Regions from separate parts of the Homo sapiens genome. Here regions 2 and 3 are each linked to region 1. The links come from fine-mapping of genetic effects on gene expression. A gene starts in region 1. Each other region holds a variant in brackets. All regions are shown on one strand. Distances are between the middles of the regions.

What was found. PIP is the estimated chance that this variant, and not a neighbour inherited with it, causes the effect.
Region 2: its variant is fine-mapped to the expression of FGFR4 in whole blood (INTERVAL, PIP 0.92).
Region 3: its variant is fine-mapped to the expression of FGFR4 in cerebellar hemisphere (GTEx, PIP 0.91).

The regions. Positions count from the first base shown.
Region 1 is chr5:177,085,212-177,087,970 of GRCh38, forward strand. It overlaps FGFR4 (fibroblast growth factor receptor 4), which reads left to right and starts at 1,704. Exons shown (of 18, transcript NM_213647.3): 1 at 1,704-1,866. RefSeq lists silencers at 1,315-1,364, 1,615-2,074, a promoter at 1,585-1,804 and an enhancer at 1,770-2,220.
Region 2 is chr5:177,001,341-177,004,099 of GRCh38, forward strand. All of the region lies in intron 1 of UIMC1 (ubiquitin interaction motif containing 1), which reads right to left. Among named protein-coding and RNA genes, the nearest start is that of UIMC1, 4.1 kb to the right of the region's middle. The variant T/C (reference allele first, on the strand shown) is at 1,557.
Region 3 is chr5:177,050,108-177,052,866 of GRCh38, forward strand. It overlaps ZNF346 (zinc finger protein 346), which reads left to right. Exons shown (of 7, transcript NM_012279.4): 5 at 644-829. Among named protein-coding and RNA genes, the nearest start is that of ZNF346, 29 kb to the left of the region's middle. The variant C/T (reference allele first, on the strand shown) is at 1,419.

The sequences.
Region 1 (2,759 bases):
GATATGCCACTATCCCTTTGGGAGTGAGGGTGGAAAGAACTAGACTTGCCTGCGTAACAATGAGAAAGGAAGTTGCTTCTTAAGACAGGGTCTACACTAGCTAGAGGGGACAACCAGGACCTGAGCCTCAGACAGGGTCTCGCTCCATAGCCTGTTGCCCAGGCTACAGTGCAGTGGAGCGATCACGGCTCACTGCTGCCTCGACTTCCTGGGCTCAAGCAATCCTCTGGCCTCAGCCTCCCAAGTAGCTGGGACCACAGGTGCACCCAGCCCATTTCCCTTCCTCTCAAGGTGCCTTAAGAGAAGGAGAAGGCTTGAGATTCAGGTGAGGGATGGGCAGAGATCAGAGGCTGCCTGGCCTCCTGGTTTGGCCACAGTCTAGATGCTCAGGAGAGAAGTGCTTACAGGTGAGGCAAACATGAGCCAGGTGGGCACGGAGCTATCTGGGAGCACCTACTGTATGCCAGACACTTGAACTCTAATGGTGAGGTCTGAGGACACAGTTCCTCTACTGAAAAATAGAGACAGGGCAACTATGTTGCCAGGGCTGGCCTCACACTCCTGAATTCAAGCTGTCCTCCTACCTCAGTCTCCTAGTAACTAGAACTACAGGCACCCGTCATTGTGCCCGGCCATTCCACAGCTATTTACATAATTAACTGTTCAGTTACAATTCTGGCAAGCGTGCTGAAGAAATAACAGGTCCTAAATAATTACAGCTAGTATTACAAAGCAAGCGCTGCATGCCAGGCTTACACATACTGCTAACATGTCTACTTTTTGCAACAACCTCTTGTGGGTGAGACTATCATTTGCCTGTTTTACTGAAAGGACAGTGAAGACTGAGGCCTTGTGTGATGGTGCTGAGAGCTGGGCCTATGACGTCCAGCCCTGTAGTCTGTGCTCTGAACCACTTCACCCTGTTTCTTTCTCCATCCTCACAGTAGAGACGTCATCTAAGAGGAGCTTGCAAGTCCAGAGGGCTTCCTGAAGGAAGTGAGCTGAGAATAATATGAAATTAACCAGACCAAGGGCCATTCCAGGAAGAGAGAATGGTACGTGAAACTGCCCAGGAGTAGCAGGGTGGGAGCCAGGAGGCGTGGGTCATGGCAATCTATGTATAAAGAGCTATGGGAATCTATAGGAAAATTTAAGGGAGTGGCTGACACAGTCAGATTTGTGTTGTAAGTATCACTCCGCAGGTTGCGCAGGGAACAAATGAGGGAGCAGAAGGAAGGGGTTCTCCTATCCGCTGCACGGCACTGCGCAGAAGACAGGGGAGCCAGGCATTCCCTGAAGGGTGAAAAGCAAGGAGTAGAGCTGGGTAGTAGACTAGAATTTAGGAGCCTGGCCTGGGGCCTGGGTGGGGCGAAAGAGGCGGAGCCTGAATGGGGTGTGTATAGGGGGGTTGCGTGTAGGGGTGTGTGTATAGGCTGGGGCGGGGTCCCGGGAGTGGGCTGACTGGGTCGGGGGCGGGGCTCTCCAGGTGGGCGGGGATCTTGGCCACCCCTGGCCACACCTCTCTCCGGCTCGAGCTGGTCTAGGCGGGGCGGGCCCGAGGGGGTGTGGCAGGAGGTGGGCGGGCCCGGGTGGGGGGGGGGGGGGCGTGGAAGGAGGGGCGGGCCCGAGCAGGAGGGGGCGGGCCCGAGGGGCGGGGTGGGACAGGAGGTGGGCCGCTCGCGGCCACGCCGCCGTCGCGGGTACATTCCTCGCTCCCGGCCGAGGAGCGCTCGGGCTGTCTGCGGACCCTGCCGCGTGCAGGGGTCGCGGCCGGCTGGAGCTGGGAGTGAGGCGGCGGAGGAGCCAGGTGAGGAGGAGCCAGGTGAGCAGGACCCTGTGCTGGGCGCGGAGTCACGCAGGCTCGAGGTGAGCCGGAACCCTTGTGGGCCCGGGCTGCGCTCCCAGCCGCCAGGGGGCGAGAGGCGGCGGGGCTACGGGGACTGCCCCTCCCGGCGCAGGGGACCTGGGCGTCCGCCGGGCGGCAGGGGGTGGAGGGGGCGGTAAATCAGTAACCCGCAGTGCACACAGGGCCTTTTGTCCCGCTCCGTCCAAAGAGCACCCCGGCCGCGGAGCTGGTTACTCATTGCCCACCGAGGCGGGGGCAGGCTGGCCCTGTGCAGCTACCCTCGGGACCCATTGATTCGCACCTCCCCCCAGGCTGGCCCGGCAAGGGTGGGGGAGGACAAGCGCGCTTGTCCCTGCGGCTGTCTTCGCGCCGGCGGCAGAGATGAGGGACCTGAGGCCCCGAAAAGTTCAGTCACTTAGTGCCCGGGGGCCTCCAGCGCGAGTGCGGGAGGCTGAAGGAGAACCCAGGACTGTCTGATGCCTAAGGCAGGCCCTCCATTCCCACGTGGGGGGTGGTCGGTCAGCGGTCAGCAGCCATGGGTGACTCGACTAAGGACTCTGATATCAGGGCAGCCTGGGGTAGGAATAAACTCCCCGGGCCTCCCCACCCACTCCCAGCCCAAGCTGTGTACCCAAAGAGCTGCCCTCCCTGCCAAGCCGAGCTTGGTAGGGAGTTTTACCAAGGAGGATCCGACTGGATTCGAGAGTTGAGGTGGGCCAGAGACAGCAGTATCTGAGTCAGGTAGAGAAGAGCAATGAGGGGCACAGAGGGATGGGCAAGAGAGCACATGTGCCCAGTTTTGAAAGCCAATGGCTTCAGCGCTCCTGAAGGGGCAGACGGTGTGACCAAAGAGATAGGCAGCGGCAGAGAGGGAGCCCTAGGATGTTGAGCTGGATCCTGCTGGGCACAGGTA
Region 2 (2,759 bases), 84 kb before region 1:
GTAAGTTGTTTTATGGGGTTTTGTTTTTTGAATAACTAGTGAAAGAAATCAAAGATCTAAATAAGTAGAGACATACCATGCCCACAGGTTGGAAGCTTCAACATAGTAAACATATCAATTCTCCCCAAACTGATCCTAGGTTGTTGTTTTTTTTCTTCAACCTTTGGGAGCACAGAACGTTATCTTAGGTTTAATGCAATTCCTATAAGAATCCCACTAAGACTTTTAGTAGACATAAACAAGCTTATTCTAAATGTATATAGAAAGGCATGGGCCCCAGAACAGTTTAAACAATCTTGACAAAGAATAAACTGAGGGCCAGGTGCAGTGGCTCACGCCTGTAATCCCAGCATTTTGGGAGGCTGAGGGGGGGCGGATCACAAGGTCAGGAGATCGAGACCATCCTGGCTAACACAGTGAAAACCCGGCTCTACTAAAAAAAAAAAAAAAATACAAAACATTAGTGGGGCGAGGTAGCAGGCGCCTGCAGTCCCAGCTACTTGGGAGGCTGAGGCAGGAGAATGGTGTGAACCCGGGAGGCGGAGCTTGCAGTGAGCTGAGATCACACCACTGCACTCCAGCCTGGGCGACAGAGCGAGACTCTGTTTCCCAAAAAAAAAAAAAAAAAAAAAATCAGCCAGACATGGTGGCACATACCTGTAATCCCAGCTACTTGGGAGGCTGAGGCACGAGAATCGCTTGAACCCAGAAGGGAGAGGTTGCAGTGAGCCGAGAGCGCACCACTGCATTCCAGCCTGAGCAACAGTAAGACTGTCTCAAAAAAAAAAAAACAAAAAAAAAAAAATTAGCTGGGCATAGTGGCGTGCACCTGTAGTCCCAGCTACTCAGAAGGCTGAGGAGAAGGGATCTCGAGCCCAGGAGTTCGAGGTTGTGGTGAGCTATGATTGCACCACTGCACTCCAGACTGGTGACAGTGAGACCTTTTCCCAAAAAAATAAAAATAAAAAATAAAACAATTAACCTCTGGTGATCCAAGTCAGAACATCGGTTACCTCTGGAGGGTACTGATTGGGAAAGACACAAGGGAGCCTTCTGAAAATGTTCCATACCTTGGTGGTACTTACACGGGTGTACACATTGAACTGTACAATTAAGACGGGTTCACTCTACTGTATATAAATGATATCTTAATAAAAAGTTTTTAAAAATAATAAATATGGCTGGGCACGGTGGCTCACGCCTGTAATCCCAGCACTTTGGGAGGCCGAGGCAGGTGGATCACGAGGTCAGGAAATCGAGACCATCCTGGCTAACACGGTGAAACCCCGTCTCTACTAAAAATACAAAGAATCAACCGGGCGTAGTGGCACGCGCCTGTAGTCCCAGCTTGAGAGGCTGAGGCAGGAGAATGGCATGAACCCAGGAGGCGGAGCTTGCAGTGAGCGGAGATCGTGCCACTGCACTCCAGCTCAGGACAGAACGAGACTCTGTCTCAAAAATAATAATAATAATAATAAATATTTGATGAGTGAATATTTCAATAAATCCTAAGAAACCAGAATATATCATTATGAGGAAACACAGGTTCAGAAAAG[T/C]AACTTGCCCAAACACAGTAGGCACTTGCACTTTTGTCTCCTGACATGAAAACTGGACTCCAATTTCCATGACTTATATCTCCTCTAACTAAAACTGCTGCTTGATACAGGATACGCACCTATAAATATTTGCTGAGTGAATAAAGAGCACAAAGTGTATATTTAAATTATTAAATGCTATATATGCATTTAACGCACAGGATAAAATTAAAGGTAAAAAAAATTAAAGTGCCACGAAGCACTTTATCAACTAATTACAATGAGCTTATTTCTATAATTTTAAAAAATAGGTAAATGCATACCCACACACACACACATATAAACACACACCCTTGATATTTTATATCCCAGTTTATACTCAGTCTCAATTTGAGACAGGTGTGTAACAACAGAATTCAAACATACTTTGAGTAGTAATTGTAATATAAAAGGATATGGCTGAAAAAAGTTGTATGGAGGATATAAAACTTAAGGTAGGCCGGGCGCGGTGGTTCACGCCTGTAATCCCAGCACTCTGGGAGGCCGAGGCAGGCAGATCACGAGGACAGGAGTTCAAGACCAGCCTGACCAACAGGGTGAAACCCCGTCTCTACTAAAAATACAAAAATTACCCGGGCATGGTGGTGCGCGCCTGTGATCCCAGCTACTCAGGAGGCTGAGGCAGGAGAATCACTTGAACCCGGGAAGCAGAGATTGCAGTGAGCCAAGACTGCGCCACTGCACTCCAGCTTGGGCGACAGAATGAGACTCTGTCTCAAAAACAAACAAACAAACAAACAAACAAAAAACTTAAGGTAATCCTTAAATCTAAGAGTATAGCATGAGTAGTACTTGGCAGCAGAGATGAGTATGGGGGAAGACTGGAGAAGCGTAATGCACTGGGAAAACCTCTCACACAGAGTAGTTTCCATCCTATTTAAATGTTTCCTGTACCGTGTGTGCACGTGTATTGTTACTGAGACAAGGCCTCACTCTGTGATGGAGTGCAGTGGCATGATAATAGCTCACTGCAGCCTCGACTTCCCAGGATCAGGCAATTCTCCCACCAGAGCCTCCTGGGCAGCTGGGACTACAGACATGTGCCAACAAGCCCAGCTAATTTTTTGTATTTTTTGTAGAGACTGGGTTTCACCACGTTATCCAAGCTGGTCTTGAGCTCCTGGGTGCAAGCAATTGCCCACCTCAGCCTCCCAAAGTGCTGGG
Region 3 (2,759 bases), 35 kb before region 1:
TACAGATGTGAGCAAAACGCATAACTAAATGTTAATGGTCCTCTTTTCTCTCTACTCAGCCTATAATATGCAATGTAGCCTAAAAGGCATCCCTAGTATGGTTACCTTTTCTGAATGACCTTGTATGAGCTCCAGGAACTCAAGCCTCAATTTCTGTATCTGTGCATTTGTTCCCAGCTCTGCAACTGTATTACTTTAAGGATGAGAATAAAACTCCCAAACTTCGTGTCCCACTTGCTGTGAAGTTCTGGGAAGTACTGAGGTATCCCTGCAAGAGTGCAAGTGTGCATCTCTAGTCTATTGTAACTTGGCAGCCTGACAGGAGAAGCTCAGGGCCTCCTAAGAATATGAGAACCACCAGGATTTGTGGGCTTAAAGTAGTTAAAGCCGCTGAATGAAATAGCCAGTCTTTGGGCTCCCTCAAATCTTCCCAGGTTTCCCAATTAGAGAATGCATTCACCTGTGTGACTCACACAGGCAGTGCCACATCTGCAGTAGGATTAACTGGTGTCACAGCCCTTTCTATTCAGCATACTCAAAAGCCTGACACCTTCTGGGTTTTTTCATTGTTTCTGTTTGAACTCTCTCACTGCAGCTCTGTCAAAACGCCTTACAAATCCTTTCCTTGTGGCCTCCACCTTAGCCTTGCACCAGAATAGAGAGATGATAGACCCAGACAAGTTCTGCAGCCTCTGCCATGCAACTTTCAACGACCCTGTCATGGCTCAACAACATTATGTGGGCAAGAAACACAGAAAACAGGAGACCAAGCTCAAACTAATGGCACGCTATGGGCGGCTGGCGGACCCTGCTGTCACTGACTTTCCAGGTGAGGGGGCCTAGCTCACACCCAGAGCTGGACCAGGGTTTGGCCACTGGGGCTACCCGGACCAGCTGACGTTGTGCTTTTCCTCCTTAGGTCTTGTAAGTAGGGTTTGCGAACTCAGATGGCTACAGAAGCCAGATGAGAAATTAAAATGAGAGCCAGGAAGGGGATATGGTCAGCTGAAGAGTGAATGCCATTCCTACTCAGCTGTTACCATATCTTTCAGGTTTTCTTTTCTTTTTTTTTTTTTTTTTTTTTTGAGACAGAGTCTTGCTCTGTCACCCAGGCTGGAGTGCAGTGGCGCGATCTCGGCTTACTGCAAGCTCCACCTCCCAGGTTCATGCCATCCTTCTGCCTCAGCCTCCTGAGTAGCTGGGACTACAGGTGCCTGACACCATGCCCAGCTAATTTTTTTGTATTTTTAGTAGAGACGGGGTTTCACCATGTTAGCCAGGATGGTCTCGATCTCCTGACCTTGTGATCCGCCCACCTCGGCCTCCCAAAGTGCTAGAATTACAGGCGTGAGCCACCGCGCCCAGCCCTCTTTCAGGTTTTCAAAAGACTCTGGAAAGCCAGATTTATATAGAAATCC[C/T]TCTGTTTTTGTTTTTGCGTTTGTGTTTTTTGAGATGGAGTCTCCCTCTGTCACCCAGGCTGGAGTGCAGCGGCGCAATCTCAGCTCACTGCAGCCTCCACCTCCTGGGTTCAAGCGATTTTCCTGCCTCAGCCTCCCGAGTAGCTGGGGCTACAGGCACACACCACCACGCCCGGCTAATTTTTGTATTTTTAGTAGAGACAAGGTTTCACCATGTTGGGCAGGATGGTCTCGATTTCCTGACCTCGTGATCCGTCCGCCTCGGCCTCCCAAAGTGCTGAGATTACAGGCGTGAGCCACTGCACCCGGCCCCTCTGATTTTTAAATGTGTAACTAAATTAAAAAATTTTTAAGCCCAGCCAGGCATAGTGGCTTATGCTGTAATCCAAACACTTTGGGATGCCAAGGTAGGAGGATCACTTGAGCCTAAGAGTTCAAGACCAGCCTGGCCAACATGGTGAGATCCCATCTCTACTAAAAATTTTAAATATTAGCTGGGCATGTGGCGCATGTCTGTAGTCCCAGCACCTTGGGAAGGCTGAGGTGGGAGGATAACTTGAGCCCAGGAGGTCAAGGCTAAAGTGAGATATGATTGTGCCACTGTATTCCAACCTGAGTGAGAGCGAGAACATGTATCAAAAAAACAATTTTTTTTTTTTTTTGAGACAGTCTCACTCTGTCTCCCAGGCTGGAGTACAATGACACCATCTCACCTCACTGCAACGTCTGCCTCCTGTGTTCAAGCGATTCTTATGCCTCAGCCTCCTGAGTAGCTGGGATTACAGTTATGTGCCACCCCACATGGCTAATTTCCGGCTAATTTTTTTTGTATTTTTAGTAGAGACAAGAGTTTCACCGTGTTGGCCAGGTTGGTCTCGAACTCCTGACCTCAAGTGATCCACCCGCCATGACCTCCCAAAGTGGTGGGATTAGAGGCATTAGCCACCAAGCCCAGCCAAAAAAAAAAAAAACTATTTTTAAACCCTGTGTAAGTCAGACCTGTCTGCAAGCCAGATTTGGGCCAAGGACCCTTAGCGGATTAGATCAGAATCTCATGTTCTGATAGTTCTTACTTTGTACCTCCACAAAGGTGAACCCCTGAGAGAGAAAAGGTTGCTTCCTATCAGCAGAATTTAGACCCCTACATTAAAGTTTTGCCTCCCCCATTCTTTGGTTGTGGTTATGTTAAGGAGATACTGGTACTAAGAAAAACTACTAAAACTACACGTACACATGGTCCCCAACTTCCTATGGTTCAGCTTTATGATTTTTTTCAACTTTACGATGGTGTGAAAGCAATAGATGTTGAGTAGAAACTGTACTTCTCTTGCACTGCTAGGC